Linked DNA regions of Homo sapiens: regions 2 and 3 are each linked to region 1. The links come from fine-mapping of genetic effects on plasma protein levels. A gene starts in region 1. Each other region holds a variant in brackets. All regions are shown on one strand. Distances are from middle to middle.

Evidence for each region. PIP is the posterior inclusion probability: the model's chance that the variant is causal. Protein levels are from antibody-based Olink assays in UK Biobank. Linkage for the fine-mapping came from a reference panel and not from the study's own genotypes, which makes the PIPs less certain.
Region 2: its variant is fine-mapped to the plasma level of the CRH protein (UK Biobank, PIP above 0.99).
Region 3: its variant is fine-mapped to the plasma level of the CRH protein (UK Biobank, PIP above 0.99).

Annotation. Positions count from the first base shown.
Region 1 is chr8:66,175,266-66,186,174 of GRCh38, forward strand. CRH (corticotropin releasing hormone) reads right to left here and starts at 3,199. Exons shown (of 2, transcript NM_000756.4): 1 at 3,028-3,199; 2 at 1,111-2,226. The coding sequence starts at 2,212. The coding sequence ends at 1,622. It overlaps TRIM55 (tripartite motif containing 55), which reads left to right. Exons shown (of 10, transcript NM_184085.2): 10 at 1-220. LOC112268029 (a long non-coding RNA gene) reads right to left here. Exons shown (of 4, transcript XR_002956713.2): 2 at 7,626-7,726; 3 at 6,558-6,616; 4 at 4,621-4,695. LOC124901954 (a long non-coding RNA gene) reads left to right here and starts at 10,251. Exons shown (of 2, transcript XR_007060948.1): 1 at 10,251-10,909. RefSeq lists an enhancer at 2,085-2,154.
Region 2 is chr8:66,703,200-66,714,108 of GRCh38, forward strand. All of the region lies in intron 3 of C8orf44-SGK3 (C8orf44-SGK3 readthrough), which reads left to right. It overlaps SGK3 (serum/glucocorticoid regulated kinase family member 3), which reads left to right and starts at 9,582. Exons shown (of 17, transcript NM_001033578.3): 1 at 9,582-9,634. RefSeq lists a silencer at 9,291-9,760. The variant G/A (reference allele first, on the strand shown) is at 7,231.
Region 3 is chr8:66,216,417-66,227,325 of GRCh38, forward strand. LOC102724687 (a long non-coding RNA gene) reads right to left here. Exons shown (of 5, transcript XR_929013.3): 3 at 4,608-4,792. Among named protein-coding and RNA genes, the nearest start is that of LINC00967, 30 kb to the left of the region's middle. The variant C/T (reference allele first, on the strand shown) is at 5,047.

The DNA.
Region 1 (10,909 bases):
CTTCCAGCAAAAGCTGTCTACTTTCTCTTTTATTCACTGTGGCACCAATCTGGTAAATTGTAGAACAATTGCATGTGTTTAAATATATATACAAACATATCACACATTAAATATATATATATTTAAATCATGCTTTGTTAATATTTGTCCCACCATAATGCCTCCTTCAGAACATAAGTGTAACTTTATATGAACTCTTAAATAAATGATGTTTTTAAAAGCTTCGTCTTATAATGATTTATTCAATGTTCTGTATTATCTTATTCATCCATTAGTTAAGTGTATTTCAAGGGTCCCAGGATAAGATGCATCTTCATACAGACAAATTAATTTTGAAGTATTAAACATTTGATTGAATTGTTTAAAGCTATAACTAAACTACCAAAGGCAAATGCACTGTAAAACTAATTAAATGTGCTGTTCAGTTTTAGAAATGAACAAAGGTAGTTCCTGTTCCTAAGAATAAAAGTGATTAGGGTTGACATAAGCAAAAATGTGGAGGATATTTGTGTAATTATTAAAGTCAAAATGTTCTTCATAAGAAAATTTTCCTATGTGACATTTTATAATGACTAAATTTAGTCGTCTTAAGTGGAGATGCTATTAAGTTTCTCTTATTAGATGTAGTCATTGGAAAATAGCTTAGAAAAAATAGTTTTATGGTACCAAAGTAGTAGTTTGACAGAGTGAGTTTTTCTCATAGAAAAAGAATGCAGCATTTTGGCCATACAGTTTGGAGGAATTTCTAGCTTGACACTTCTCTCTTCCTCATCTTTTCCCCACTATCTCCAATTATTTCATATATTTTAATTGATCAGGGCTAAATGTTATTTCCATTATAAAATGATCTTCCCTTTTAGAATTACCATGTTTTAGAGCTGCTGGGAGCAACTTCCTGAATTATTAACTCAACCTCAGAGAAGTAGTCCATGGCACAGAGATGAGCCCAACGTGATTGCAGGGTCTGTGTAAGCCACTGACATATGTTTGCATTTTTAGTGGAAAAATATAATGCAGGAAGTTTTGCTTTTCTTTTCTGGTGCTGAAGACAATTTGGAGGAAGCTAAGAGAGTATTTCCAGTGTATGAGCACTGAAGAGAAACAGTAAAGTCATGATTACCTTTGCAACTTTTATTAAAAATATAAGTATTCAACATTCTCTTACACAACCAAACTGACCAAGGACTGGAAAGATGTTTTATTACTGAAACGTTTACAAGAGAAAGTTGTTTCAAAGAGCTTACAGATTTAGTCTTACCCACCCAAGAGAATGGCATTCTCTTTGGCTCAGACCACAACAAAAACAATTGAGTGACTTCTGTCTGCTTTTTCAAACAAAACGTTTTCTCACAGGTCTACATTCTCTTTAAAACACCACTATAAACACCTGGAAACGGAAACTAAACGTAGACAAAACGAATAACATTGTGTTGCTGCTGCACGTGAATACACTTTGTGCATGCTAAGTAAGGGGTATAGGCTCTCTCCCTCTCTCCCTCTATGTTTCAAGCTATATAAAAATAAACAAATGGCATAAGAGCAGCGCTATGGTACAGAATACTGTATTTTTTTAAATTTTTTTTGTGCTAAATGCAGATTCTTTTTGGCCAAACGCACCGTTTTATTTCCCAATAATCTCCATGAGTTTCCTGTTGCTGTGAGCTTGCTGTGCTAACTGCTCGGCCCTGGCCATTTCCAAGACTTCCCGGAGGAGGTGGAAGGTGAGATCCAGGGAGATGGGAGGCTCCTCGGACCGCCTTTCTCTCTCCGGTGCCTCCTGGTGGCCGCCGAGGGCATTCCTAGCGCCGCGCTCCGCGAGAGCCGCGGGGCTGTCGAGCGAGCGCCGAGGCAGCAGCAGCTGCTGCAGCAACACGCGGAAAAAGTTGGCGGTCGCCTGTTCCGGCGAAGGGCGGCTGCCGCTGCCTCCGGCGAGGAGCGAGGAGGCGGGCGAAAGGGGAGCGGCCGGGCTCTTGTTGAGGTTCCCCAGGCGGAGGAAGTACTCCTCTCCCATGCGGAGCAGGACCGGCCGAGCCTGCGGCTGCTGGGGCTGCTCGGACTGCGGCGGCGGCTGGAAGAAATCCAAGGGCTGAGGGTGCTGCGGCGCCTGCCGAGCTCCCGGGACCGGCCCGCGGCTCAGGAGCGCCCTGCATGGCGGGCAGGGCAGGAGAGCCACCAGCAGGACTCCCGCGGACACAAGCAGCGGCAGCCGCATGTTAGGGGCACTCGCTGCGGCACAGAGGTGGGCGGAGGGCGGAATGAGAGAGGGGAAGAGAGAAAGAAAGAGTTGGTTAGAGTTCGCTCAGCTGGGAGGTGCACACGGGGTCTTCCTACGGGACTGCCTTAGACGTGCTGGGCTTTGGCCTCAGTGATTCGGATGGGCGCTGTCCGCGGTGCTGAAGCGCCTGGGGAGCGGGGAAAGGGGGCGCCTGCAGGGCTCCGCACCTAAGCTCATGCGCTCACCGGCCAGGAGTGACCCTTCTTTCTAGACTCTGAAAGGACGGTCCCTGCGTCCTCTTCCTAACGATCCTCAAAACTAATTTTCCCGATCCTAGAGAAGAGCCACAGATTTAAGATCCCACCCGCGCTGACTACCTCCCTTCCGGATATTTCAGCATTTTCTTCCAAATTGAGAACTACTGCCTCATGGTCCTCCCTCTCCACTTCTGCCCTTGCTGCCTTATCTCGGGGGTTAGGATAGAAGGGGGTGGGGGAGCTCCTTTACACAGCCAGCAAGGAGCAACTGGCAGCACGGGTAACGAAGAGCAGCCGTCTAAGTTTGCTTTTGCCACATCCCAGCTACTATTGTAATCTTAAGGAATAGTCCGCGAACACGCGCGCACACACACACGCACGCACGCGCGCATACACACACACACATACGCATACACACATGCATACACACACACACACGCACGCACACACATGCATACACACGTACACAGGCAGGGGCAGCCGGCTCCGCGGCGCACATCGCGGCAGCTCAGGCAACGCAAAGTTGGTGGCGTGTTCCGTCCAGGCGCTCCCTACCTTCCCAGGCGCTTCGCAGGTGAGCCGGGTGCTGCCGCCTCTCTGCAGAGAGACGTCTCCGGGGGCTTTCTCTGGAGGTTGTCTTCCTTTCTCTTTACTGTTCCCACTCTCTTTTTCTTTCTCTCCTCTCTTTCCCCTCAGTCTCTCAATGGACTTGGTCTCTGAGTTTCTCCACTCCAGAGCCTGGAGTGGGATTTTATAGTGTCGACCCTCTTCAAAAACCACGCAGCATTTGCCTAATAAGCTGACGCTCTCTTGACAGCTCGATTGCGTGCTGCCTCTGCTCCTGCATAAATCATAGGGCCCTGCCAAGGAACGAGGGGCAGAATTTTGCTATCTCAACACTGAATCTCACATCCAATTATATCAACAGATATTTATCGCCTCTTGGTGACGTCAACGAGCCCTAAAATGGAAGGGCTTCTTATGACTTGTCCATTGACAAAAATTCTTGAATGAGATTTCCCAAGTGTGAAAACATATTGACCTCTTACTATGAAAGGCCATATTAGGGGTGTGCAAAGAGACAGCGAATGGGAGGAGGAAGGGGAAGTGGGAAGGAAGTGAGGTGTCCCAGTGCAGCCCTGCCAGGAAAGCAGCAGCCAGTTGGAGGGGGTGGACCTGGATGCCCCTTCTCCTAACCTCCCTGACCAGGTGTCTCTGACAACACCTCAGTATCTGGAAATATCCCTTTGCTAGAGACAGAGTCCCACCATCTTTCTGCCTGGAAAAGAATGAAGCATCAGGAGAGGGGTGTGCAGGAACATCCAGCTTTTAAACGTCTATCTGCTTTTTCCTCCCAAGAGCAAGCACATAAAGGAGTTATGAGCCTGCAGAAGCAAGGCCAATAAATCTCTCAAAATGCAGTTCAAGTTTTTTAGATGATGACAAGAGCTACTCCCATAGTGAAGGGGCACAAACCGGGGTTAGTAAGGGGTGCGGCAAAGATTTTAGGTTATCTCAGAAACTCTCTGCTCCTTTTTTTGTCTCTCTTCTCACAATCTAAAATTAATTGTGGACTCCCTTTTCTATTCCCAAATTAAAGAGAGAGGCGGCCAGTGAGAGATGCATGAGTTAAACAAGCTTTACTTATTCTACTGAATGCAAACTCAATGAGAGGCATCCATTCTAACTTCCTAATCTATGTTGAAAAAGGCTTAAACTGCTTGACTACAGGGCTAAATTCATTAGTTACATGTTTTCATTGGTCAATATTGAGTCTGTAAAAAAAAACTCGTTCATTTCACCTCCAAATACTATCAACATCCATAATAGTATCCACATCTGGGCCACCCAGGGTGGTTCTTTTTAATTATTTCTTTTTCCAAATCCAAATGTGCTTCATGTCAGCCTGTTAAATAAATAAATGCTCTCTGACATGTCGCAGAATGGAATGGAATGCTAAGCCTGTAAAACTATATTCAATTTTTGATTAATTGACACTATCATATAGGTGGGAGGCAGTTACCTCTAATTCTGCAATTCAAAATGCAATTCCAAGTTCTTGTGCCTGTGATTCAATTCAGCTTCCAGATAACCATCAGAGTTGTTTATCGGAAATTTCCTGCTCCTCATTTCTGATTACTTCTGCTGCTTCCTTTGTAGCTAATGTGACAAATGATGCAATGCATATTTCAACTTCCATTTTGGGTCTATACCAATCCACAACTGCTCTTAGGAACAAAGGGAAGGCAGGGAGAGAAATGTTGACAGTTTGCAGAGAAGCCAGCCCATAGTTGGATCACTGCACCATGTTATGTACTTTTGACATAAGAGAACAGAGAGAATGTGCCTACTTGGAAAGATGTGAGTTGTTAATAGAAGATCATGATTATGGAAAATGGTTGAGTTTCTGGGAGAAAGCTGTGTTTTATATTGGTAGGAAAGCACACAGAACCTTAGATTTTGTTATTGTGGGCTTTTTTTTTTTTTATTAAGCTGGAATGGGTTCAACATTTTTGCTTACTTTCCTTTATGAACTGTTTTCTGACCCTGTTAGCAGATTTCAGCTTGGATGTCAATCTGGAGGTGAAACGTTGACTTGGAATAGGAAGTTTCAGTGCAGTAAATGGACACAGAAGATAAACTAGGAAAGGGATGTGGTTATGAGTTTAGCTGGGGAGGTCTGGGAGGTTCTTCCAGAGAAGACACAACAAGTTTTGGGCTCTGACTAAACCCATGCCCATACAAATCTCTCTCCCATTGGGCTATCTGGGGGATATTGTTTTAGTATAGCTCCCTCATCACTGTTGAGTCCTTGCTGTGAGGTTTTCTTGGGGTAAGTCATTAATAGAGCCAAAGTGGCTCCAACTAGGGAGTAAGGAAAAAAATGTTCCTGAACCCCAGAGGAAGAGAAGCTATGCACAGCCACAATTTATCTGTATTTGTCTGTTCTCACACTGCTAATAAAGACATACCTGAGACTGGGTAATTTATAAAGGAAAGCAGTTTAATGGACTCACATTTTCACATGGTAGGGGAGGCCTCACAATCATGGCAGAAGGCAATGGAGAAGCAAAGACACGTCTTACATGGTGGCAGGCAAGAGAGAGCATGTGAAAGAGAACTCCCCTTTCTAAAACCATCAGATCTGATGAGACTTATTTACTATCACAAGAACAGCATGGGAACAACCCACCCTTATGATTCAGTTACCTCCCACCAGGTCTCTCCCACAACACGTGGGAATTATGGGGGCTACAATTCAAGATGAGATTTGGGTGGGGACACAATCTAACCATATCATTATCCAAAATGTATATCTCATTAAATCACGCAGTTTTCACATTAGAAATGACTTAAAGAGATCACTTGGTTTAAATGAGAACCAGAGAAGTTAAGTGACTTACCTGAAGTCACTCAGCAAGTTAGTGGTAAAGTGAGAATTAGGAACCAGCTCTTTTGATTGCAAGCCCATATTATTTGCATAATGTAACAATAACCTTTGGACTTTCTTTTCCAGCAGAGGCACACAAACTGAGGTGAAAAGATGAATTTTAAAATATTTTAGAGCTAGAATCTCACTTTCTTGCCCAGGCTGAAGGCACTGTGATACTCACTGCAGCCTAGAACTCCAGGACTCAAGCGATCCTCAGACTCCTGAGCAGTTGGAATTATAGGCATCAATCACCATGCCTGGCCTGAGAAGATGCATTTAGATAAAGTAATATATTCACACACCAATTGTGGAGTAGCTTTTTATACATTTTCCTTATTTGATAAACTAAGGCATGAGAATGCAGAAATTCTCTGTGCATGCTCATGTCTGTGGCACCTGATTTTCAATCTGTGTGTGCATACATTGCAATTTACTTTTCAGTATTACCAAATTAAAAGCATTAATTTGATTATTCTGCCTAGGTGACCTTTGAAAAAAGTGATCTTTGGATACAGTATGGAGGGTGAAAGGGATTCTTAAAATTATAATATAGATCTATGATTTGAGAAATAACATAATGCAGATAACTTAAATGTGCTATAAACTAAATATCCAAATACATAGAAATCACCACTGACAGATCTGATCTTACATGTAAGAATAACTTCTGGAAAGGAGTCATTGGAGAATCAATTTCAATGCTTTTAGAACCTAAAAACACAATCCAAGAAACATGGGCACAAAAACAGGGATTACTTCATGTTTTAAATCATATTTTTCAATGGCTACATAATATACGGTATAGGTAAATTAAAACAGAGCCAACACAACAGTCTAATAAAGAAATATCAGAAATAATAGGTAACTAGTGGGCATATTTTTGTCACTTGTATCACCTTGTACCTTCACAAGCTTCTATTAGCACAGCTCGTGGTGAACAAACACCATCTCCAAGTTGGCTAACAGAAACATTTGTTGAAATGAATCTACTGTTTCCAATGAGAGCCTTCAGAAATGCCTAGGGTGGACAGGTGGTTTGGTAATTGTTTGTAACTGTTCTTTAGATAGATTAAGTAACTGCCTTCTGCTTCCACAGGAGGACTGAGGAAAGGCCCTCAAACAGCAAAATATCTAACTGCTTCACTGGCAACAATAACTTCTGTTAGTCTCTTCTGATTATCAAAGCCATATGTGCTCTTTGCAGAAAACTTAGAAAAATCAGAAAAGCATAAAGAATATAAAATTCCTCAGAATATCTGAATCTAAAGATCATCACAGATAATTAATATTTTGTTGTTTCCCTTGAGCATTTTTCCTGAGCTCATAATCATAATTTTGATAACACCATGTTCTTAATACTGAATCTCTGCTTAAAAAAAAAACTCTCATTTTAACATTTAAAATAATTGAGAGAGTAAATTTTAAATGTTCTCATCACCAGAAATTGGTAAGTAAGTGAGGTAATGGATATGTTGATAACTTGATTTAGCCATTCCACAATATACGCATATATCAAAACATGTCATACACCATAAACATATACAATTTTTATTTGTCAATTTACATTAATTAATTAATTCATTGCAAAATAATTTGTTGAAGAAATCTTCCCCAGATTCCTATATTAGGTTCAGCACCTGTGCTTCATATTTTCCTAATAGCATGAATGTCCTTCATTGTAAAGCTCACATTTTGTTATAGTTACTGGTACAATATGTACCTCCTTTGCTGGACAGTAAACTGTGTAGCAGGGCTTTGATCATCTTTGTAAGTTGCCATATCCATTTCTCTTGCCCCAAACATGGTAGATTTCCAGTAAGCCTGTTGAATGAATGAAATGCAGAAAATCTGTTGAATGAATGAAGTATAAAAATTACCCATAAACTGTACATATTATCCAGACATAACTAAATAACATTTTATAGTTAAAATTTTATAATCTACTTTTTTCCATTTAAAATTATATCTCAAGCATTTTCCTATATCCAAGTGAAATCCTTTTTTTATTGCATGGTATTGCATCAATATGTGCCAAATTTTCTATTCATTCTTCATTGTTGATCACTGCCCTAATGACCTGCTTTTTATTCTTTTTCATCTTACCCTTGCACTTTTAAGTAATATACCCACAGAATTATTTCTTGAGTCTTCAAATATAAACAATATCTCTTAACTCCCAGATTGTAAGATGAGATTATTTATCCCTTCAACTTTTCAGACACCCTCCTGCACCTTGATCTCTCAGTCTCTTTCATCTATACTTCTACTTCTAGATTGTCCGTTAATTATTTTTATAATCATAGTTAAATCTCCCATGCTTTTATGCTTTTACTATAATTGATTCTACACTTGATCTTAGCCAAAGGGCCAAGAAGCTCTAGATAGATATAGATAGACAGATGATGATAGATAGATAGATAGATAGATAGATAGATAGATAGATAGATAGATAGATTCTAAAAGTAGGAAGTCAATATAGTTTTTAATTATTGACTATGAAAGTTGTTCACTGAAGAATAAGATCATAGACTCTGATTACATTTCCTATCTTGTTTTTTTTTCTACAATTTTCAATTGACACTTTTATATTTTTTATAATCCCAGTTTGGTTTTTTCCTAGAATTACGAACTGCCTTAATTTTGTTCTCATATTTTTTCAAATTTTCAATCATGATAAGTAATCTATTAAGTCCTCCCCCTCTTTTTAAGACCTTGATCCTTGAGCATGCTAACCTGCTGCTTTCAAACTAGTTACTTTCTAAATCTGATGCATAGGTTTCTTCCTGGGACTTCTCTTTTCTTCTTCCCTGGATTGAATTCCCTGTCCGGAATCACAGGACTTTTTCCCTTTTGATTTCTGAATTTTATTTTGCTGGAGAACATCCTCCGGTAACTTTCTAGGAAAGGATGTATGAGAAGCATGTTTTCTGACTCCTTGCATTCCTGAAAATTGTTATATTTTACCCAGATATTTGAGTGATGCTTTACCAAGGTATATAATTTCAAGTTAAATATAATTCTCTTCTAGAACTTAAAGTATTATTCTCTTGTGTTGTATTATCCAGTGCTGCTGATAAGAAATCCAGTATCATTCTAATTTTCCTTTTATTTCTTTCTTTTTTTTTCATGGAGTCTCACTCTGCTGCCTACGCTGGACAGTGTAGTGGTGCGATCTCAAATCACTGCAATCTCTGCCTCCCAGGTTCAAGCGATTCTCCTACCTCAGCTTCCCAAGTAGCTGGGAATACAGGCATGTGCCACCATGCCTGGCTAATTTTTGTATTTTTAGTAGAGATGGAGTTTCACCATGTTGGCCAGGCTGGTCTTGAACTCATGACCTCAAGTGATCCACCCACCTCAGCCTCCCAAAGTGCTGGGATTACAGGAGTGAGCCACCATGCCCAGCCTGATTCTCATTTTTCATAGGACCTTTTTTCTTATTCTCTCTTGAAGCTTTTAGTCTCTTCTTTTTTTGTTGATGTTCTGAAATTTTAGAATGGTCTTTGGGTCTTTTTTTCATGTACTCATTTTAATTTTGAGGTTCTTACTCTTCAATGGTGAAAAAAACCTCCTGTATTATTTATATTATAATTTTTTCCATTTTCTCTATTCTTTCTTTTTAGGGATTTCTGTTATGAGATGTTCTCCCCTCTATTGGCCATCTGTGTTTACTATTTTCTGTCATGTTAGAACTTTTAGTTTGCGATTCTGCTTTCTAAGATATTCTTCAATATCTTCCAGCTCTTCAGTTACTTTCATTTTACAACTGTATATTCAACCTCCAGACTTTTTATTCTTTCTCCATTCCTTTTTAATAACTCCTGTTCTTGCTTTACAGTGGAATGTTCTCTCCTATTTCTTTAAGAATGTTAACTAGAAGGTTTCTAAGTTTTCTTTCTTTCCCTGAATTATCTCTTCCATCTGTGGTCATTTAAAAATCTTTATTTATCTTAATTTCTCAATTTTATGCTGGAGATCTTTGTGAAATCCCTGAAGGCGACCCTGTGTATGATTGGTAGCACCCTCATGTTTAATAATTATTCAGTACAAAGTTGATGAAGAACTCTATATGCAGGGTAAGGAGCCTGCTTCTCGCCAAGCAGCCTTCCTTCCAGGGTGATCACATGGTGAGCTAGTCTTTACTTGGGATACCCATGAATGTCATATTGTAGAGAATTCCTCTCTGTAGCCATTCAATTTTATTTAAGAAAAATGTATGTATTAGTTTTCTGAGTATGCCATAGCAAATACCAGACTGGATAACTTAAACAGCAGAAATTTATTTTCTCCCTTCTGGAGGCTAGAAGTCCAAGATCAAAGTGTCAACAGAGTTGCTTTCTTCCCAGGCCTCTCTCCTTGGCTTGTGGTTGGCCATCTTCTCCCTGTGCTTTCACACGGCCTTTCCTCTGTGCATGTCCCTGCTTCCATCTTCTCTGCCTACAAAGACATCAGCCATATTGTATTAGGGATAACCCATATGACCTAATTTAACCTTAATTACCTCTTTAAAGGCTCTGTTTCCAAATACAGTTACATTCTGAAATATGAGAAGTTAGGACTTCAACATGTGAATTTTTCTACATCTAGGAGACACATTTAGGCCAATAACAGTATACCTGGCAATGTTTATTTCTTTATTTGCTTGTTGCCTAACAGGCAGACATTTGAATGTCTGGCATTCTTCACATGGGATGAGAAAAGTTGGTGGAGAGGTTGACTCTTCCATATATAAACTTTCAGGTATTCTCCGTATTTTTGACCCTTTTCTCACTCCTGTCTTTGGCGAGACTTGGAGGTTCTGAGCCTTGAGCCCCTCCTAGGCTCTGCAGATGGACTCCTCCCTCAGCTGCCTGCCTCCTACAGCCTCTTCATCTGCATTTTCCTCTGGAGACACAGCATCTTCTCTGTCCTCCTCCTTCCTGTCCCTTTGTGGACCCCTTACAGCTGCTTTCTCTCCCTTTCTTCCTCAAACACCATCTTCTCTGCTCTCATTATTTCAGAAGT
Region 2 (10,909 bases), 530 kb after region 1:
GGCATGAGCCAACCTGGTCTGTTTCTTACTTTTTAGAGAAAACAAATGGATGTTGTAATATTTTCTTTCTGTTCTTTCTGAACTTGTAGTAGATTGCCTTGAGGACCCTTTGGATGTCCAGTCTCCACTTTCAATACCATTCGCCTTAGCAAATATGAAGAAATTTAAAATTATCCAGGAGAAATACAGTTTCAGTAAAACAAATGCAGAGGAATTACATAGGATAATCAAAACAACTTCTTAAATATAATTTGAGAAATAAAAGGAGGCTGAGTTTAGATTTTAAAATCTGATAATAATGAAATGTGATTTTTTTGAAGTGTAATTTTAAACGTAAGATTAATACAAGGCTGCATTATAAGAGTGTCGGCCGGGCGCGGTGGCTCACGCCTGTAATCCCAGCACTTTGGGAGGCCGAGGCGGGTGGATCATGAGGTCAGGAGATCGAGACCATCCTGGCTAACAAGGTGAAACCCCGTCTCTACTAAAAATACAAAAAATTAGCCGGGCGCGGTGGCGGGCGCCTGTAGTCCCAGCTACTCGGGAGGCTGAGGCAGGAGAATGGCGTGAATCCGGGAAGCGGAGCTTGCAGTGAGCCGAGATTGCGCCACTGCAGTCCGCAGTCCGGCCTGGGCGACAGAGCGAGACTCCGTCTCAAAAAAAAAAAAAAAAAAAAAAGAGTGTCAACTGGCCAGGTGCGGTGGCTCACGTCTGTACCCCCAGCATTTTGGGAGGCCAAGGTAGGCGGATCACCTGAGGTCAGGAGTTTGAGGCCAGCCTGGCCACCATAGTGAAACCCTGCGTCTATTAAAAATACAAAAATTAGCTGGATATGGTGGCAGGTGCCTGTATTCCCAGCTACTTGCGAGGCTGAGGCAGGAGAATTGCTTGAACCCAGGAGGTGGAGGTTGAAGTGAGCTGAGATCGCACCACTGCACTCCATGATACTAAGGACTCACTTGATCCTTTATAGAGTTCCATGTCTCATACTGGGCATCTCCTCTAAAATCTAAAGAAAACATGGAGAATTTGGGAAAAACTCCTATGAGAGTCATAAAATATTTTTTAAAATGACAGAAAAAGTTAAAAGAGCTGGGGTTGTTTATCTTAGAAAACTCAGGGGAATTTAAGAGTCTTCTTGCGTATGAAGAGTTATAATTCCTTAAGGTCTACTTAAGTCTTTGACACATCTGGCTGGGCCAGACACAGATTCCTTAGAGAATTTGTTAAGGAAATAACAGCAATGCACCTCTTTATGCCAGAAGCTATTAAGCCCTTGCATTTGAAATAGGTTCAATCATTAATTGCACATAATAGAAGTAAATAACTGAGTCACCAAATGAACAGTGTTTAAGAAAAGCTATTATTCCCCACTGATAAGCAACTAAAATAATAGTTATCTTCAAAGTCCACCTAGCAGGTTTAGTCCACCTACCCTAATATGATCCCCTGGACGTAGAAACTGCTGACACGACTTATGTAAATAAATTATTGTCAACTATTAACAGACTTTTATTTTATGTACATAATAGACTAAATGAGATACAGAAAAAAAGAGAAAAATGAATGATTTATATTTTATTCTTGACATTCATAAAAACAAGATTGGAAGACAATGAGATTTCCCTAATAGGAAAGTATAATAATATTATTTTAGATAATTAATGGTCTTAGGGAAATTTAAAATAATTTCTAGCTACTTTTTATCAAAAAGCTGATGCTAGCAGTTTAAGTGTTCTGATCTCCTAACACTTCCCCTTGATTTTTCTCATGAGTCTAATACAGAAAATGAGAAAGTCCTGTGATCTGAAAAGCCTTATATTTGATCCTAATGTAGTCTTGTTTTAAAATAGAGTTTCCTACCTGTTATGAAACATACTTGAACTTCAAGCATTTCAGTTTTGAGTTTGAATTGGCTAATTTGGCCCAAGAAATGACGTTCAGCTTTGGGCCTCCCACCTATACCCTACCCCACAAAATGAACACATGCTGAACCCTTTTCAAATCATAGAAACAAGTTAATTCTGCTCTGTGCTAAAGAGGCGTTAATTGCTCTCAATTTCAGTTCCCATGTGTATCTGAGGGTTTTTTTTTTTTTTTTTGAGAAGGAGTCTCACTCTGTCACCCAGGCTGGAGTGCAGTGGCGCGATCTCAGCTCACTGCAAGCTCCACCTCCCGAGTTCACACCATTCTCCTGGCTCAGCCTCCCAAGTACCTGGGACTACAGGCGCCTGCCACCACGCCCGGCTAATTTTTGTATTTTTAGTAAAGACGGGGTTTCACTGTGTTAGCCAGGATGGTCTTGATCTCCTGACCTCGTGATCCGCCCGCCTCGGCCTCCCAAAGTGCTGGGATTACAGGCATGAGCCACCGTGCCTGGCTAATTTTTGTATTTTTAGTAGAGACGGGGTTTCACTGTGTTGGCCAGGATGGTCTTGATCTCCTGACCTCGTGATCTGCCCGCCTCAGCCTCCCAAAGTGCTGGGATTACAGGCGTGAGCCACCGCGCCCGGCCCTTTTTTTTTTTTTTTTTTTTTTTTTTTTGAGACAGAGGCTTGCTCTGTCCCCCAAGTTGGAGTGCAGTGGCGCAATCTTGACTCACTGCAACCGCCCCCTCCCGGGTTCAAGTGATTCTCTTGCCTTAGCCTCCCAAGTAGCTGGGATTACAGGTGCACCATCACGCTCAGCTAATTTTTGTATTTTTAGTAGAGACAGGGTTTCACTATGTTGGCCAGGCTGGTCTCGAACTCCTGACCTCAAGTGATCCTCTCGCCTTGGCCTCCCAAAGTGCTGGGATTACAGGTATGAGCCACTGCACCTGGCCAACTGAGGGGTTTTTTTGTTTTTGTTTTTCAGACGGAGTTTTGCTCTTGTTGCCCAGGCTGGAGTGCAATGGCTCAATCTCAGCTCACTGCAACCTCCGCCTCCCGGGTTCAAGCGATTTTCCTGTCTCAGCCTCCCAAGTAGCTGGGATTACAGGCACATGCCACCATGCCGACTAATTTTTGTACTTTTTTTTTTTTTTTTTGAGACGGAGTCTTGCTTTGTCTCCCAGGCTGGGGTGCAGTGGCGCAATCTCGGCTCACTGCAAGCTCCACCTCCCGGGTTCACGCCATTCTCCTGCCTCAGCCTCCCGAGTAGCTGGGACTACAGGCGCCTGCCACGGCGCCCGACTAATTTTTTTGTATTTTTTAGTAGAGACGGGGTTTCACCGTGGTCTCGATCTCCTGACCTTGTGATCCACCTGCCTTGGCCTCCCAAAGTGCTGGGATTAGAGGCGTGAGCCACCACGCCCAGCCTAATTTTTGTATTTTTAGTAGAGACGGGGTTTCATCATATTGGTCAGGCTGGTCTCAAACTCCTGACCTCAGGTGATCCGCCTGCCATGACCTCCCAAAGTGCTGGGATTACAGGTGTAAGCCAGCGTGCTCGGCCACTGAGGGTTTTTTTGGTTGTTTTTTTTTGTTTTGTTTTTTGTTTTGAGATGGAGTCTCGCTCTGTTGCCCAGGCTGGAGTGCAGTGGCACGATCTTGGCTTACTGCAAGCTCCACCTCCCAGGTTCACGCCATTCTCCTGCCTCAGCCTCAAGAGTAGCTGGAACTACAGGTGCCCGCCACCACACCCGGCTAATTTTTTTGTATTTTTAGTAGAGACGGGGTTTCACCATGTTAGCCAGGATGGTCTCAATCTCCTGACCTCGTGATCCGCCCACCTAGGCCTCCCACAGTGCTGGGATTAAGGCGTGAGCCACCGTGCCCGGCCAGTTGTTTTTAAACAGAGGGTCTCCCTCTGTTGCCCATGCTGGACTGCAGTGGGGCAATCATAGCTCACTACAGGCTTGACCTCCTAAGCTTAAGTGATCCTCCCACCTCAGCCTCCCAAGTAGTTGGGACTACAGGTGTGCACCACCATACTCAGCTAATTTTTTTTTATAGAGACAAGGGGAGGGGTCTCACTTTGGTACCCAGGATGGTCTCAAACTCCTAGGATTAATGGATCCTCCCATGTCGGCCTCCCAAACTGCTGGGATTATAGGCGTAAGCCACCACTACTGGCCTGAGTTTTTCTAACTGTATCTTGGGTTGCTTTATGTTTTATTAAATTGTTTTGCTCAGAAAATTTAATAAATTAGTCAGCTGGGCATGGTGGCACACACCAGTAATCCCAGCACTTTGGGAGGCAAAGGTAGGAGGATGACTTGAGGCCAGCGGTTTGAGACCAGCCTGGGCAACATAGGGAGACCCTGTCTCTACAAAAATAAAAAATTAGCCAGGCGTGTTGGTGTGCACCTGTGGTGCTACTTGGGAGGCTGAGGTGGGAGGAGTGCTTGAGCCTTGGAGGTTGAGGCTGCAGTGAGCCATGGTTGTGTCACTGCACTCCAACCTGCGCAACAGAGTGAGACCCTGTCTCTAAAAAAAAAAGTGAGACCCAGTCAAAAAAAAAAAAAAAAAAGAGAGAGAGAGAGAGAAATTTAAAAAAAAAAAAAAGAAAATTTAGGCCAGGCTCGGTGGCTCACACCTGTAATCTCAACACTTCAGGAAGCTGAGGTGGGCGGATGAGTTGAGGTCAGGAGTTCAAGATCAGCCTGGCCAATATGGTGAAATCCTGTCTCCACTAAAAATACAAAAATTAGCCAGGTGTGGTGGTGTGTGCTTGTAGTCCCAGCTACCTGGGAGGCTGAGGCAGGAGAATTGCTTGAATCCAGGAGATGGAGGCTGCAGTGAGCCGAGATCACACCACTGCACTCCAGCCTGGGTGACACAGCAAAATTCCATCTCAAAAAAAAAAAAAAAAGAAAATTTAATAAATTAGTCACTTTTGTTTCCCCATATTTTTACCCATTTTTACAGCAAGGTTTTCCTTTTAATTATTACAATCTGAGCCAATTCATAGTTAGGATTATGTTTTTAACTATCTTCTCCACAAAAATGGTTTTCTTTTATTTGATACTGTGGGATGTTGTGATTAGAATGTCAGCTGATAAACATAGCTAGAAACTATAGCAACAACTTATGGTGTCTGACCCACTTAAGCATGTGAGTCTTCAGCAGAATGAGGGAAAAGATACCCTAAAAGCAATGCAAATAATATGAATCAAAACCATCCTTTGCGAGGCTGGGCGAGGTGGCTCACACCTGTAATCCTAGCATTTTTCAAGGCCGAGATAGGAAGATCACTTGATGCCAGGAGTTCAAGACCAGCCTGGGCAATATAGTGGGACCCTGACTCCAAAAAATTTTAAAAATTTGTTGAGGTGGTGGCGCAAGCCTGTAGTTCCAACAACTCAGGAGGTGGGAGGATGGCTTGAAAGCAGGGAGTCGAGGCTGCAGTGAGCCGAGCTCACGCCACTGCACTCCAGCCTGGTGGGTGACAGAATGAAATCCTGTCTCAAAAAACAAAACAAACCAAAAAAAGTATTTTGCTTTTGTAAGCATATAGTTGGTAGGATTATTCTTACCTCTCTAGACTTAATATTTTATCTGCTATAAAACAAGTATTCCTTTTTTTTTTTTTTTTTTTTGCTGGAGTTTCGCTTTGTTGCCCAGGCTGGAGTGCAGTGGTGAGATCTCGGCTCACTGCAACCTCCGCCTCCCGGGTTCAAGCGATTCTCCTGCCTCAGCCTCCTGAGTAGCTGGGGTTACAGGCACCCACCACCACATCTGGCTAATTTTGTATTTTAGTAGCTACAAGATTTCACCATGTTGGCAGGGCTGGTCTTGAACTCCTGACCTCAGGTGATCTGCCTGCCTCAGCCTCCCAAAGTGCTGGGATTACAGGCATGAGCCACGGTGCCTGGCAAAAAACAAGCATTCTAATGAATACCAGCCCTCACTAATGGAAGTGGTATTTCTTGTATTTTTATGCCCCTCACTTCTTCCAAGGTTCTGATAAAAGAACTACAAATAATAGAGGGCTTTATTATGATATAAAAAAGTAATAATGCTTCCACATAAGGCACCATTTTAGAGAAAAGGTTTCCCATTTTGAATAGTGGAGGATGAAAACCAAGCATTCATTTCATTGGAATATATGATCTAAAATAATCGTAATAACCACATTATGTGGCTGGGTAGTTGGGGTTTTTTTGTTTGTTTTTTGAGACGGAATCTCACACTGTCGCCCGGGGCTGGAGTGCAATGGCGTGATCTCAGCTCACTGCTACCTCCACCTCCCAGGTTCAAGTGATTCTCCTGCCTCAGCCTCCCAAGTAGCTGGGATTACAGGTGCCCACCACCACACCTGGCTAATTTTTTGTATTTTTAGTAGACACGGGGTTTCATTATGTTGGCCAGGCTGATCTCAAACTCCTGACCTCGTGATCCATCCGGCTTGACCTCCCAAAGTGCTGGGATTACAGGCGTGAGCCACCGCCAAAATTTCTAAAATCTGGCCATTTTAATACTATTACAAATAAAACATATATAATATTGGCATTTTAATATATGTTTTAGAGCTAATAATGATGAAGATAGCAGTCACTTGGTATTATGTTCCAGGCATTCTACTAAATTCATTTGATCCTCATAGCAATTTCATGAGATTAGCACTATTATCTCCGTTTTACTGAAGAGGAAAAAGCACTATTATCCCCAGGTTACTGATGAAACCGGTGCTCAGAGAAGTGAAACAATTTGCCCAAAGTAGGAAGTGGCAAACCAGGAGTTAAACCTGGGTCTGTCCAATTCCAAAGCTTGTGTTCAAAATCTCTACACTATAGATAAAACAGATGAACAAAATATTTGCTCTATCTGAATGAACAGAATCATATTTTCAAAGAAAGTATTGGGACCCATAGTCTGATAAAAAGCTCTATTTTTAAAATTTATTTACATGAAATATTTCATAAAGGTATAAACATCAGCTAGACATTTAGCTGAACATTCAACAACTTTTTTTTTTACAGTCTAAACTTGGAAACATAACAGAAAATGGGGATATAACCTATATCTCTATCAATAGGTGAACACAATTAATCAAAGTGATCAGCCTTAGCCAGGTGCGGTGGCTGAAGCCTGTAATCCCAGCACTTTGGGAGGCTGAAGCAGGTGGATCATTTGAGGTCAGGAGTTCAAGACCAGCCTGGCCAACATGGTGAAACCCTGTCTCTACTAAAAATACAAAAATTAGCCGGGCGTGGTGGCGCACACTTGTAATCCCAGCTACTGGGGAGGCTGAGGCAGGAGAATTGCTTGAGCCTGGGAGGCAGAGGTTGCGGTCAGCCGAGATCAC[G/A]CCACTGCACTCCAGTCTGGGTGACAGAGTGAGACCCTGTCTCAAAAAAAAAAAAAAAAACCAAAACAACAACAACAACAACAACAAAGTGATCAGCCTTAAAATTTGCCCTTAAAACCAATTTTAGACTGGGCATGGTGGCTCACGCCTGTAATCCCAGCACTTTGGGAGGCCAAGGCGGGTGGCTCACCTGAGGTCAGGCGTTCAAGACCATCCTGGCCAACATGGCGAAAATCTGTCTCTACTAAAGATACAAAACATTAGCTGGGCGTGGTGGCAGGCACCTGTAATCACAGCTACTCGGGAGGCTGACGCAGGAGAATCGCTTGAAACCGGAAGTTGGAGGAGGTTGGAATGACCTGAGATTGTGCCATTGCACTCCAGCCTGGGCAACAAAAGTGAGACTCCATCTCAAAAAAAAAAAAAAAAAAAAAAACTAATTTAATTACAGTGAAAAAGTCCTTAGTAGTTTGTGAATATATTTACCTCCTCTAGCTTTTTGCAAAATCTAGCTATTAAATTGCAGCTCTCAGATTGTAAAGGCAAAATGCCTAACATGTTGTCTGTTGATCAAATGAACCCAGCCTGGGCAACACAGTGAGACCGTCTCGTCTCAAAAAAAAAAAGAAAATACATAAAATGTTTGTGGGAGGTGATCTCTGTGTGTGTGTGTGTGTGTGTGTGTGTGTGTGTGTGTGTGTGTGTTCTTCACAATAGGACAAATTTATCTAGAAATGTAATGGTTCCCAGATGTTTATTTTTTTAAAAAGTCAAGATGTGGTGATAGCCAGGTATTTGTCTCTAAAGTGAGAATGATGTTATTCCACTTGGAGTTTATTGACACAGAACTTCCTTTTGTCTGAGAAATCTTCAGCACTGTGAATATGGCTTTAATTAAGAGATACACTCATCACTTGTTGATTTTGTTACAAGGGAAGAACTCCTCTAATGTATGTGGATTGCTTTGTGGACCACAGTAAAACATATAAAGGACCACCGGCAATGTATTGTTTTGTATCTACTGCATTCTTATATTCATTTCTGAAAACTACTGTTTAGAAAGTTCTGTAGGATTACTGAAGTACAAAAAGTATTTGGATTCACAATCCACTTTTTAAAGAGAGGCCACATTGTGGTTATTGACATTAAAAATGAATGTCCTAACCCATACTTGTGGGGCTAAATCTTTGAATATCATTTTAAAACATGAGGAAATGTCTTCTGAATTTAGGGAAGTCACACATAGATCCCAGTTCCTCTAATAACCTTTGGCAGTTTATTTGTTCATAGATTTGTGGCAAATTCTCTGGAATCATATGATCTAAAGTACAAATCATTGTCTCAAAATCTAAGGCATGATATGCACATGGGAATCTTTAAGTACTTGTCTGAGTCTATCTTCAAGTGATATCTGATAAGACCTAAATTACAGTAGTGTTGTGGGACGAAGAAAACAACCCACTCTACTTCAAAATCTTAACCACTTGACTCCACATCCATTGAACCATGTAATTCTTAGTTCTCCACTCAGCTTCTCTATCTGTTAAAAGAGATAAACAGATCTAAAACGCAGCTTCTGTAATTCAAGAATGAGTAATAAGGAGCTGTAAAGTGTGCACTCAGCTGACTTGGAGATTAATGGGAATAAAAAAAAGAGTCAGTAGATCTAAAAAGATGTGTGGAAAGGAAATTTCTCTGCACACAGGATCTGCCAATTTGTGAAAGTTCTCGACTGTTTATAAACACAAGGGCCGTAACTCTGCTAATGACAAAAGTGGAAAACTGTCCAAATAATGCTAAATGAATCACAGTTGTTCTCAATTATTTGGATATTTAATTCACTCCTCTGAGTTTCCAGTTTACACCAAGCCAACCCCCCCAACACCACGGGCCCACCCGGGGGGTCCTGATCCCTGCACACACCAGGTCATCTCTGTTGGGCCCCGGCGCTCTGGCCCGCGCCGGTCTTGGGCCCCAGGGTAGCGGCCACTGCGGGCGGAGCAGAGGGAAACACCAGAGTCTGTGACTCCAGACAGGACCCACTGTGTCCTCTTGAACTTTGCACAGCGCGTGACGGGGGCAGACGGTGCACCGTGGCCCGGCCTTTCGCGGGGGTCCTCGGGGAAGAGAGAGGAGCGCGGGTTTCCTCGGAGGCCTGAGCGGGACGCAGCCTGCAGCCCCTCCCCGCACGGGCTGCCCCCGGCCCGCCGCTCGCGCCGCTCTGCTGGGATCCGGCGCCTTCCCCGGCTGTCCTCGGCCTCCCGCGCGCTCCGCGGGAGGAGCCGCCAGCGGCCGTGACGCGTCAAGGAGGAAACGCCGGCGCCCGGCGGCCCTGCCGGGAAGGAGGAAGCGCAGTGCGTTCGGCTCCGCGCCCGCCGCGCCGGGAGCAGCACCGCGGGGCCAGGTAGGTGCGGGGCCGGCGGGAGGGTCCGCGCGCCCGGGACTCCGACGGCGGCCCGGGGCGGGAGGAGACGGGGCGGGGCGAGGGCTGCCCGGGCCTCGGCCGCTGCCTGTCCTCGGAAAAAGCCGTACCTCCGCCCAGCCCCCGGCTCCCGGAGAGTTTGTGGTCTTTGTTTCCACGAGGTGAATTCAGATCCTGCCTCGAGATTCCTAAACGCCCAAGGGGCGTCGGTGGCTGGACCTTGTTAACCCCCACGCAGCCGCCGAGCCTGGAGGAACTGGGAACGCCGAGCAGGGAGACCCTATCTGAGGTCGAAAGTGGGTGCAGGTCACCTGCGAGGGTCGGGGAGGGGGCAGCCGCCAGAGTGGGGTGGATGGAATCGTTTAACCTGTTGTCAGCGGATCTGTAGTAAAAGACCTTAATACGTTGCGTCTTTTAAGTTCTCTGTAATTTGAACCCTTACGTCTCTTCAAGTGAATCTGGCCCTATTAATTCTCACAGTTTTAGCTTTGGAATGTACCCACAAGAAGTGCTTTGAGATTTTTAGATTCTGTCATTTTTAGTCATCGTTACTTGGAAAGAGAAAAGAGAAAGGAATCATCTCTTGAAACTTAAAACGCTTTCATTGAGTTGTGCACAGTGACTTCTGAACCATGAGTAGAATTTCAGTCCTGCACCAGAGACTACTTAGTGTGCACTTGGGTGCAAAATAAATACAGAGCACTGTAATTTCTAAATCTTTTGTCAAAGTGAAAAATAGACTGTTGTGTATTTTGATTCTCTCCCTTCTCACCAGATTGAGACTTCACCCAGCCAATCTGGGAGGTGCCTTTTTTTATTTACCAAACACTTACATAGCCCTTACTATGCGCTGGGCTCTTTCTAAGTTCTTTATAAATATTAAATCAAATTCTTAACTTATCATATTATAGCGGTTCTAGCAATGAAGAGGCTATCCATACTTTAGTTCCCCAAATGTCATTGGAAGAGCTGTAAACATTAGAGGAAGTTTTAGGCATGTTTTAGCACCGGGTGTGCCTTCTGGTCCCCTTGGCTACCACTTCTGTAAGACAAGCCACCACCCCAGCATTTCCCTGGGGTAAGGGAGCCTGGAGCTCCTGGGAATGCGACCTGTTCAAAGCAGATGTTGGCCAGAACCTGAATGACTTGTGTAACATGGTCTCTTTCAACTGCCGTTGTGCCCATCGGCTAACTCTGGAGACACCAGAACTTCCCCTTCTTTAACTGCCACTGCATGGAGCCTACTTTTGTTTTTGA
Region 3 (10,909 bases), 41 kb after region 1:
TGTCTGTATTCCCTAAAGTCTATATCCTTCCTCCTAGCACAATGTCATACACATATCTCTCTTTTTTTTTTTTTTTTTTTTTTGAGACAGAGTCTTGCTCTGTCGCCCAGGCTGGAGTGCAGTGGTGTTATCTCGGCTCACTGCAAGCTCTGCCTCCCAGGTTCACGCCATTCTCCTGCCTCAGCCTCCCGAGTAGCTGGGACTACAGGTGCCCGCCACCACGTCCGGCTAATTTTTTTGTATTTTTAGTAGAGATGGGGTTTCACTGTGTTAGCCAGGATGATCTCGATCTCCTGACTTCATGAGCCGCCCGCCACAGCCTCCCTAAGTACTGGGATTACAGGCTTGAGCCACCGAGCCCAGCCATATCTCCCTTATTTTTCCAAAAAAGAATGACTGGATGGATGGATAGATGAAAGAAACATATATACATATGTGATAGGTAGATATACAGATGATTGAGAGAGAGATGTGAGTTTCTTCCTATACTTAATCCATTTGAAAGACAAGTATCTAGTTTTTCACAAATATTCACGATCTCAGTTATGGAAATCTCTGGGTTTCACCCGAATCAGTTTTCTGTGCAGGCATAGGCTTCTTGTGTATTTCATTATAACACAAATTTTCTTTTCAATTTCCACTAAAATTTTATCTCTCATTTGATGAGCAATTTTCATACTAGCTGAGACACCAGCTGAAACTGTTTTACAAAGTGTTTTTTCTTTATTTCTTTCTTTGGAGAGTATATGGTGAATTGCTTGTATTCATAGGACCAGGTCACTGCTGAATTTTACATTCTATTGTTTCATTTACCCCAGACTTTGGTTTTCTAGTTAAGAACTAAAACTGTCTTTGATCTCAACTTTCTGTTTACTTCTGTCAACAATACTTGGTCACCTTTCCTTTCAAATCTTTTGTGTGTTTTTTTTTTAAACACAGAAAAATCAGTTTTCTTTTACTTCACGAATACCACCATGAGATGTGGAGGCCTGGGCAGTCAGCTAGATGAACTCACTTAGCATCTTGACCTCAGACCAGTCTGGAAATATGACACCTCATGGCACTTGGTCCCTACTTGAGCCCCCATGACATAATGTCTCAACTTGCAAGTCACCTTCATACATATTTGTATTACTTGTCTCAGCATAAATGAAATGCTTCAGTAACAACCAAATCTCTTATGTATAACCATCTAAAGAGAGGTATCAATATTTCAAAACATTTTCTATAAAGTAAGATAGTGAGCAGATTTGGGGGTTTTGTTCTCCAACTTTTTTTCCAGTGTCTATTGGAGATAACACCATTCACTTTAAGCTTTAGAGATGAAGGAATATTTTTAATAAGGAGTGATGTCAAATAGTGTATGCTATAAAGTAGTATGTGTAACCCAAATACAGTATCCTTGCTTTCCAGTTTCTATTCAAGAGTTCAAAAACGAGCCTGTTGGATTTCTGAACTTGATTTTGAGGCTTGAGCATATAGAGTACTACTTGCTTTTCTGGAATTACTTGGCTTGAGTTACACCCTGTGAAATGTTCCAGGGATTGCTGTCTATTCATTTTGAATCTATCTAATTCTAAGATAAATCAGATAACACTAAAGATACTTCCTTTATTGCCCAGAAATAGATTGAGCTTCAATTTCAAGTCTGTTATTAAAACTGCAAATGCTTCCCCTAGGAAATCTTCTTCAAGATTGTCCTTGAAGAATGGAAGCTGCTCCTGGGCTGAGTATTCTTTTTTCTTCCTCGTTGGCCCTTGATCTTTCTGCTTTCATCTTGATCTCAGCCCAGCTTGTGCCTCATTAAAACCACCTCACTGTGGACTGATGAATGAAAAGGAAATCCGTGCCATATAAAAGAAACCCCTTCCTGACAATCCAGCACCATAAAAGACAAAATCTCTTCATTGATAACAATGCTAACATTGGGGCAACACTTGAGTGGATTTTCAAAGCCCTCAGTTCCATGGGCATTCTCTCCTTAGAGCTCTGAGGTTGGCAATTCTTACTGTGAAGTGGTGGCAATTATCCATCCAGACCTCTTGACTGTTGTGAGACAATCCTAGGACCTCCATTCAGGGCATTAGATGTAACTAAGCTTCTAATTATCACATTATGCAGCCTGGAAATAAATTGAAATCTGAGATTTCATTCAATTAAGAAAAGGCACCCGGAGTCCACTTAGCGATGCAGTGCCGACTAGAGCTGCTCATGGCTGACCCAGCTGTACCTAAATGGCGATGTGGCTTCTCCACCATGCTCACACTTTACGGTGATTGCTTTGCCCAAATCAATTGGGCAGCAGTGTGTCCGTTATTAAGAGACCTGTATAAGTCCATCCTTTTCACAAAACAGACACTCTCACATAATCATTGAGGGGTGTAAGCATCATTTGAGTTTACAGCAGTTTTCCCAATGTCAGATGTCAGAATGCCCTAAGGTGCCTGTTAAAATATCCTACTCCAGACCCACCAAAGCAAATTTTCCAGGAGATTCTTATGCTCAGGAATGTATGGGAAACACCAGTTTCATAGCAATCTTTATCTTAAAAATGGGTGCAAAACCACAATTCACTTTTATCCCAAACATTTATGAGGTGAATAATGTATCCTTTCTGCAATATTCTCTGGCAGATACAAAGAGAAATTAAATAATAAATCAATAATAAAATACATCCATGTTATGTACCAGGTGCTTTGTATAGTCATCTCCAGATTTTCACAACAAATATATGAGGTTAATTGTAGTTTCCCATCTTACGGATAAGAAACTGAGGCTGAGAAAGAATAAGTCACTTGCTTAGTTGCATAGCTGGTAAATGGTGGAACCCCAGTCATTCCAGCTCCTCATCCCATGTGCCAATCATTACTTTCCTGGTTTCCCTTTCTCCTCGAGCAAGATAAGATGTGTGCTTGGAGCACAATACAAGACAAAATGTGTGTGGGCCCCGTGAGGCTGGAAATGCCAAGTTCTAACAGCGCTAAGCGAAGAACTGTTGATGTAGTCTCCATCGAGTCAGAAAGACTTCAAGAAGGAAGCAAAGGGGTCAGGTAAGATGAGGTAGGTGGGAAGAAGGGAGTGTTATAGGGAGGAGGAAGGGCAATAGGGAAAAGAGGATATTGCTTTTTAAAAACAATAACCATAAGCATTTATTAAGCACTGAAATGCCAGGCAGTTTCTCTGTGCTTTAAATGTGTTCTCACGTTTAGTTTAATGCTCACATCAGCCTAGTGAGAGCAGGGACTCAAAGCCCCCTTTCGACTTTTTTAAGTCCGTTGTCACAGAGAACAACTAAAGTTCTGTCCACTTCTTTCCTTCCCTCCCCTTGTCCCTTGTGAGGAAATTCACACTCCAGTCAGGAAATTCACACAGAGTGAACCTTCTGCAGACAGGCCAGCTGGTGCTGGGAGAGGGCCCAGTCCAAACGTTGGGAACCCCAGAGAAAGCTTTATTTCATGTTGCTAAGCAAATGCTGAAGTATGTGGAGCTTAGGTAAACCACTTGAAGTGAACTAAATTGTTCATAATAATTAAATGTTCCGGGCTCTTCAGAAAGTTCCACGGCCATTAGTCATGTTCTTTGATCCATGAACTTGCTCTCCTCAGAATGTGAATCAGAGGTGAGGCCCCTTTGTGTGTGACACTGAAGGGCCCTGAGACAGGGGTGGGTGCGGGTGACGGGGGTGGTGGGTTAAGCATGGCCAGCGCTGCTCAGAGAGACAGGACCATTTCTCGGCTTTGTAACTGTCTTTAATGTTCTTTTTAAAAACTTTACACTAAGAATTGCACAGAACTGGGGACTGGACTTAAAATGATTGAATTTGGTCTCCCTCCAGTGCCCCATCCTTCCCTTCCCTGGCACCCAGCATCTTTATGCCCCAGGCACCAACGCTGTCAGGGGAACCTGACCCAGGAGGCAGACTTGTCATGTGCTGCAGCTGATATTCTTCCTCTCTCACTTCCTTGCAATCTCTTATCAAAACTCACCAGCATAGAGTCCCATTCCATCACTGCTAAAGGATAATGATGAGAAAGGAACAAACTGTCCCTGTTCTAGGAGGCACATCACAGGTGCTCTTCAAAAATTAACTCTTCCAATATTCACCATAACTTTAGGAGTAAGAAATATTTTAATTGATGAGGAAAATAAGGAGGGGTTGAGTGATGGAAGTTTATGTTGTTAATAAGCGACAGAGACAAGATATGAATCCAGGACCAAGTCAAAAGTCAATCATTTTCTACTGTACATGAGTTAGTTTGGGTCCTTGGAGAAGCAGATGCAGAGTCAGGATTAAACATGTAAATGATTTACTGGGGAGCCCATGTTAAGGAAAGGGGAGGGAGCAGGAGCAGGCAAGGAGATCCTGCAGGTGGAAATGCAGGTCTGGCCCCTGTGAAGGAGAGAGAAAAGGGCAGGGATGGGCTGGGAGACCGTTAGCCACAGCACAGTTCCTAGAAAGGTTAGGCCAGCTGATGGGGAGCCCTGAGCCAAAGTTGCCTGTTGGAAGAGTCCTACATCTCTAGAGAGATCTAGAGGTCTTTAAGAGCATTAGGACCATGCCATGCTCAGCCCTGGGCTGGGAGCAGCCTGGGGGATGTTGGCCTCACTGTGAACAGGTGGTAGATCCAGACAGGAGCTGCTGGGCTGTCAGTCAATGTTCTCTGCAGCAGGAGATCCGAGGTCTGAGTTGTGCCTCTTCATGGCCACCGCAGTCACAGTTACCCACACGGCAAGATCTACTTTACACAGATTCAGGAAGCAGCTCCTCCATGGATCCCATAGGTCACTCTTCCTGAGGAGAGATTTAGATGAGAGAGGTTAGGAATACGAACTACAGTGCTTCTTGTTAGTCCTGGGACCACATCTGGTTCTCATCCTCTGCCTCCTCCACTGTCCGTTCAAAAGTCCCTCATCCTCAGCTATCACCTAGGCAGGGCTCAGAGGACAGGGCTGTGACATGTGTCCATTCACAGTCGAAATGGGGCACAGGAGTATTAGTAGGTATCCAAGTGGATGCCCTGGGTTCTGGGTTATGCAAATTCTTCC[C/T]TGTCCCCATTGTATAGAAGCACCCTACCTCCTCCTGCTGACAGGGGCAGTGACGCCCAGCAGGATGGTGAGCCCTCTTCCCACCAGCTGGTCCTTCAACACAAGGAGTCCAAAGTGCCTTTGTGGCAATCTTAGCTTATAGTGCAATGGGACCCTTGTTGTGCCCTCTTGCAAGAGAACACCCCCCACTGGGAACTCCCAATTGTGAGAAAAGGAATCATAAAATCCCTGTGTACCTTTAGGAGTGATAAGTAGAGTCACTCCTGCTTTCACCTCTTGGTTCCAGACCCATGCATTCTTCCATAAGGAACACAGTGGCATATATAGGCCTCTGATTTAACGTATGCATGGCTACAGCCTGGAGGATGGCTCCCACTCTCCGAATGCTGCCTCCAAGCTGGCTTTTGAGCTATGCCTTTAGGAGGCCATTCCAGTCCTCCACAAGGCTGGCTGCTTCTGGATTGGATGTGTGATACATGGTCATGGGACCACTCCTGTACCCACAGCTAGTTCCCTGGTCAGGTGTTATATTGTGTGTGAGCCCATACCTGTGAATAGGATATTCTGTAAGTCCAGTGATCGTGCTAGCTGAGGGGCTGACATGGAGAGGCAAACCATGTCCAGAACAGGTGTCTATTCCTGTGATAATAAGTTGCCAACCCTTCGGGATAGGAGGGGCTCAATGTAGTTGGCTTGCCACAAGAGGCTATCTGTCCCCTCAAGGAATATTACCATAACAGGGGTTCAGTGTATTGTCTGTGGCTGACAGGTTGCACACTCAGGCAGCAGTAACTCCCATGCTAATTGGGACTCCCTGCTTCTGGGCCCAAACTCAACTTCCATCTCCTTCCCTCCGTGCATGTGCCCTTTCTGCCAGTTATGGTGGCTGATGGCAAAGGCTGCTAACCTCATCTGGCTGAGCCACTTTGTCTACTTGGTTATTCAAGTAACCAAGTAACCAGGTAAATGCTTTCTGGTGCATGCTACTATGTGATACAAATGTGTTCCCACATCAGTACATCCATTCCCATGCCTGTAGCCCAGACCTCCTTGTCTCCAGTCTCCCAGTTCTCCCCTTACCAGATGTCCAAGCCATTGGCCACTGCCCAAAAATCTACTTCTGTGATTTATATTATCATCCCCTACCTCAGAAGAGCACCATCAACAAGCCCTGTAGACTCAGATTTCCCAACAGACATGGTGACCACCGTGTCATCTGGGCCCTCTCTGGGAATATAATCCTCTGATCGGTCTCCTGGTCTTGCATAACACACCCACTCTAGCATACCTACTTGCCTGCGCTTTTTTATGCCTTCCTCTACTGTCTGCCGAGGAAACTCTTGTATTTTCACTTTGCTCAGCAAGGGCCATCACTCTTTCCAGGTTTCTATGAGCCACTCTAGCAATGAATTTGCCTCATCCCCCAGGGTGGTCACTAGTATTCAATCCCATGTCTCAACAAAGGTGCCCAAGAAAATGAGTTTTGTTAATCATACACTCCAGCCCCTTTGATCCAGCACCCTCAAAATCTATTTCCAGGAGTACTCCTCTGATAGCAGCTATATTCTAGCAAGTCCTGAAGCCTCTTCAGTGTATAATCTCTTTCCTCCTTCTCAAGCCCAGCAAGTTCTCAGCCAGATAATGCTGGGATTTAACCTGATGTTCACCTGGCAGCCAGGTGAGGACATGGGAGCAGCTCCTGTTGACCTGTGGAGGAGAGGTCTCTGCAGCCTCTCCCACAGAGGGGAAGCACTAGCTTGTTCTAAGAAAGGGTAGGTTGCCTTGGCAAACTCAGAGGATTTGGGGCAGTCTTCAGAGACCTCCACTTAGATGTCTCCCTTCCATATTCCAGGGCCCCAGGTTTTCTCATCCAGGGCCCTGACCTTAGCATAATGGACCTGCTCTGCAATTCTAAGTAACTGTCTAACTGATAGACGCTGCTCAGCTGTGTCCAGTGTCAACTGCAGGAGATGGGGGTCTCTTTGTTCACTGCCAAAGAGAACCTCTGGCTCTCACATTTAGCCTTTAACTGCTTGTCAAGGCCTCAGCTTCTCACTAGAAAGGCTCCCATCTCATCCTCTGCAGGGCATCAGGCAAATGAGTAGTAACCAGCCAACCCCACTGATCTTGCAGACATCTCCCCCTGCCCCTACAATTTTCAAACTCCTGAATCATTACTCCTGCAAGGTGGCTCTCATCACTGGGGAGTTTTCCAGGTTACCATGGGTAAAAAGTTTAGTATTTGGGCCTTCACTCTGTGCCAGAGATCACTCATTTTCTATCTATCACACAGGATGGTGCCCCCTTTGCCTTCCAGGCTGTGAGTAAGCCCATCTCACAACCTCGTTTTACCACCTGTCTTTTCACCCAACTCCTGACATCACTTGTGTTAGTTTGGGCCCTCCGGGGGTTAAGTATGCAAGAGGCTTGTTGGAGGAAGTGCCTGTGAAGGATAAAGGGGAGGGAGCAGGAAGAGGCAGGCAGAGCCTTCAGGCCACAATGCAGGTTGAATTCCTGCGAAGGAGACCGGGAGGGAGGGGACTGGATAGGAAGAGTCTGGGACTGCAGCACAGTTCCTAGAAAAGCTCAGCCAGCTGATGCGGAGCCCTTGAATCAGAGTCGTGTGTCGGAGGAGTCTTGCATCTCTCAGGAATGGACCAGTAGTAATACCACCACCATGGTCAGTCACTAGCTGGGAGCAGTCCACAGGAAATGTGGCATAGGGGCAAACACAGTGGACAATCCAGAGTGTTAACTGCTGGGGGCATCAGCCAGTGATGCTCCCTACAGCAGAACTCAGCAGTGCATTTTCATGAGCACCTCAATAATACACTAATGCCCAGACTAAGTCTGGCTATGATGTTAAAGATAGATAAAACCTAGATAACATTCACATTTTGATAGCTATATATAAAAAAATTACAACAATAGAGAATAGAGGGATTTTAAGATGTATAGCAGGACCAATGGGAAAAAAATAATTTGGTGCAATTGAATCTCCCTTGGCCCTCCTCAAATCAGATCACATAGGAAGCTACTCTGTATGGTGCCATTTTTGAAGAAATACATGCCCTTGATAACCTTATAAAATGGAAATGATACCATTTTAGAATTCAAAGGAAGGTGGTTCAATTAGGGAGTTGGGAATGAAATGCTCAAAATAAAGTCATTTCTGCCTTCCTATCTTGGGCAGAGAGGTGAATAGCCTTACAGTTGAATGAAGCAATTTTTCCACCTGCATTTTTAATAGCCAGGGAAAGAGAATGGTGATGCCAGTCTGCAGAGACTCTTAAAATTGGAAGGGACCCAATAAATCATGTTCATTGTACATTGACCTCCTATTTAGCAGTAAAACCTGTGCAAGATTCTCACCCTCAATTCCTAAGGGGTTAATTGTCCTAGACTTGCATGCCTCCAGTGACAGGGACCTCACTGCTTCCCGAGATAGCCAATTTTGTGGTTAGACTGCTCTAGTTTTATAATGCTGCTTTCAAAAGTAATAGAATCAGCACTCTTTGCCACACTTGGCCATGTATTATCAAATATTATCTCACTCAGGGAGGGAGAATTTTTTTTTCTGTTTCATAAAAGGGGAGCCTGAGATTCAGAGTGACTAAGTGATTTGCTCAATGTCACACAACTGGAATTCAATTCCAAGCCCAGTTCTGTTCCTCCATCTCCCCGCAAACGCCTTAGAGTGTGCTTGAATCTGTCTCTAATTTTCACTTCTACTGATTCTAGTTCACACTCAGAAATCTCACAGTACAAGCCTACTCTTATCATACACATGATGTTCCTTCCAGTGTCTGGGTCAGTCCTTGCATTATACTGTATGTCATTTTAGTTTCCAGGTTAAATGCCCAATTTCAACTGTTTCTCAAATGCCTCATTCCCAGATATCCTCAGACAGTCTCACCCAGATGCATTTCAGGTTTCTAATATCCCTTTTAATGTGACACATCTTGAACTGAGCACATCCTCCAGGCATATTATGACTTGTGCGATGTGGAAACAAGCTATCACCTCTCTTTCCCCACACACTGTACTTCTGTTGATGCAATGACATCATGCTATTGACTCCAAAAACATATAAGCAATTAATGCCACTAAATCCTTTTTCACACAGGCAGCTATTAAATTGTATCTTCCTCATTCTGTACAGGTACAATGAGTTTTTTGAATCATATTCATTCTGCTTAACTTAAAAATGTTCCAAAAATATTGTTCCAGACTGTTAAAATTGATAGTTTTGGGGTTTTTTATTTGTTTGTTGTTGTTGTTGTTGTTGTTGTTTTTGAGACAGAGTTTTGCTGTTGTTGCCCAGGCTGGAGTGTAATGGCACAATCTTGGCTCACCGCAATCCCCGCCTCCTGGGTTCAAGCGATTCTCCTACCTCAGCCTCCCGATAGCTGGGGTTACAGGCATGTGCCACCATGCCCGGCAAATTTTGTATTTTTAGTAGAGATGGGGTTTCTCCATGTTGGTCAGGCTGGTCTCGAACTCTCGACCTCAGGTGATCCACCCGCCTCAGCCTCCCAAAGTGCTGGGATTACAAGTGTGAGCCACTGCGCCTGACCAAAATTGTTAGTCCTGTTAACATGATTTCAATGCCATTTTCAATTTCAATTGAAGATGACCTGATTTCAGATGCTACCAAATCACATCATCATCAATAAATTAGTATTTTTTGAGAGAGCCTGTCCCACTACCACATATTGCAGCGCCTACTAAAATGTGATATTTTTTAGGCCTGATACAGTGACTCATGCGTGTAATCACAGCACTTTGGGAGGCTGAGGCGGGTGGATCCCTTGAGGTCAGGAGTTCAAGACCAGCCTGGCCAACATAGCAAAACCCCGTCTCTACTAAAAATACAAAAATTAGCTGGGCATGGTGGCATGTGCCAGTAATCCCAACTACTTGGGAGGCTGAGGCACGAGAATCACTTGAGCCTGGGAGGCGGAGGTTGCAGTGAGCCAAGATCACGCCCACTGCACTTCAGCCTGGGCAATGCAGTGAAACTCCATCTCAAACAAAATGTAGTATCTTAGTCTATTTTATGCTATTAGATTAGAATACCACAGACTAGGTAATTTATAATGAACAGAAATTTATTTGGCTTGCAGTTCTGGAGGCTAGGAAGTCCGAGATCAAGGCATGACATCTGGTAAGGGCCTTCTCATTATGTCGTAGCATGGCAAAAGGCATCAAATGGCAAGAGAGCACAAAAGAAGGCCAACCTTAATTTTATAACAAACCCACTCCCACAACAACATTAATCTATTCGTGAGGACAGAGCCCTCATGACCTAATCACCCCTTAAAGGTCCTACCTCTTAATACTATCACAATTAGCCATTAAGTTTCAATACCTAAATTATGCAGGAGACACATTCAAACCACAGCATTCTACCCCCTCCCCCTTATGTGCTTCTCACATGCAAAATATACTCATTCCATCTTCATAACCCCAAAATCTTAACTTGTTCCAACATCATAAGTCCAAAGTCCAGTGTCTCATCTGAATCAGATATGGATGAGACTCAAGGCATGATTAATTCCAAGGCAAATTTCTCTTTAGCTGACAGTCTGTGAAATTAACAAGTTACACGCTTCCAAAATATAATAGTGGGACAGGCCTAGGATAGACATTCCCATTGCAAGAGGGAGAACTAGGAAAAAAGAGAGGGGCAACTAGTTCCAAATAAGTCCAAAACCCAACAGCAAAAACAACATTGAGTCTTAAAGCTGGAGAATAACCTCTTTGTCTCCATCTTCCCCATTCTGGACATGCTGGGGTGGGAGTTGGTCCCCCAAGGCCTCAGGCAGCTCCACCCTTATGGAACTCTGTGCCAGGAATCAAG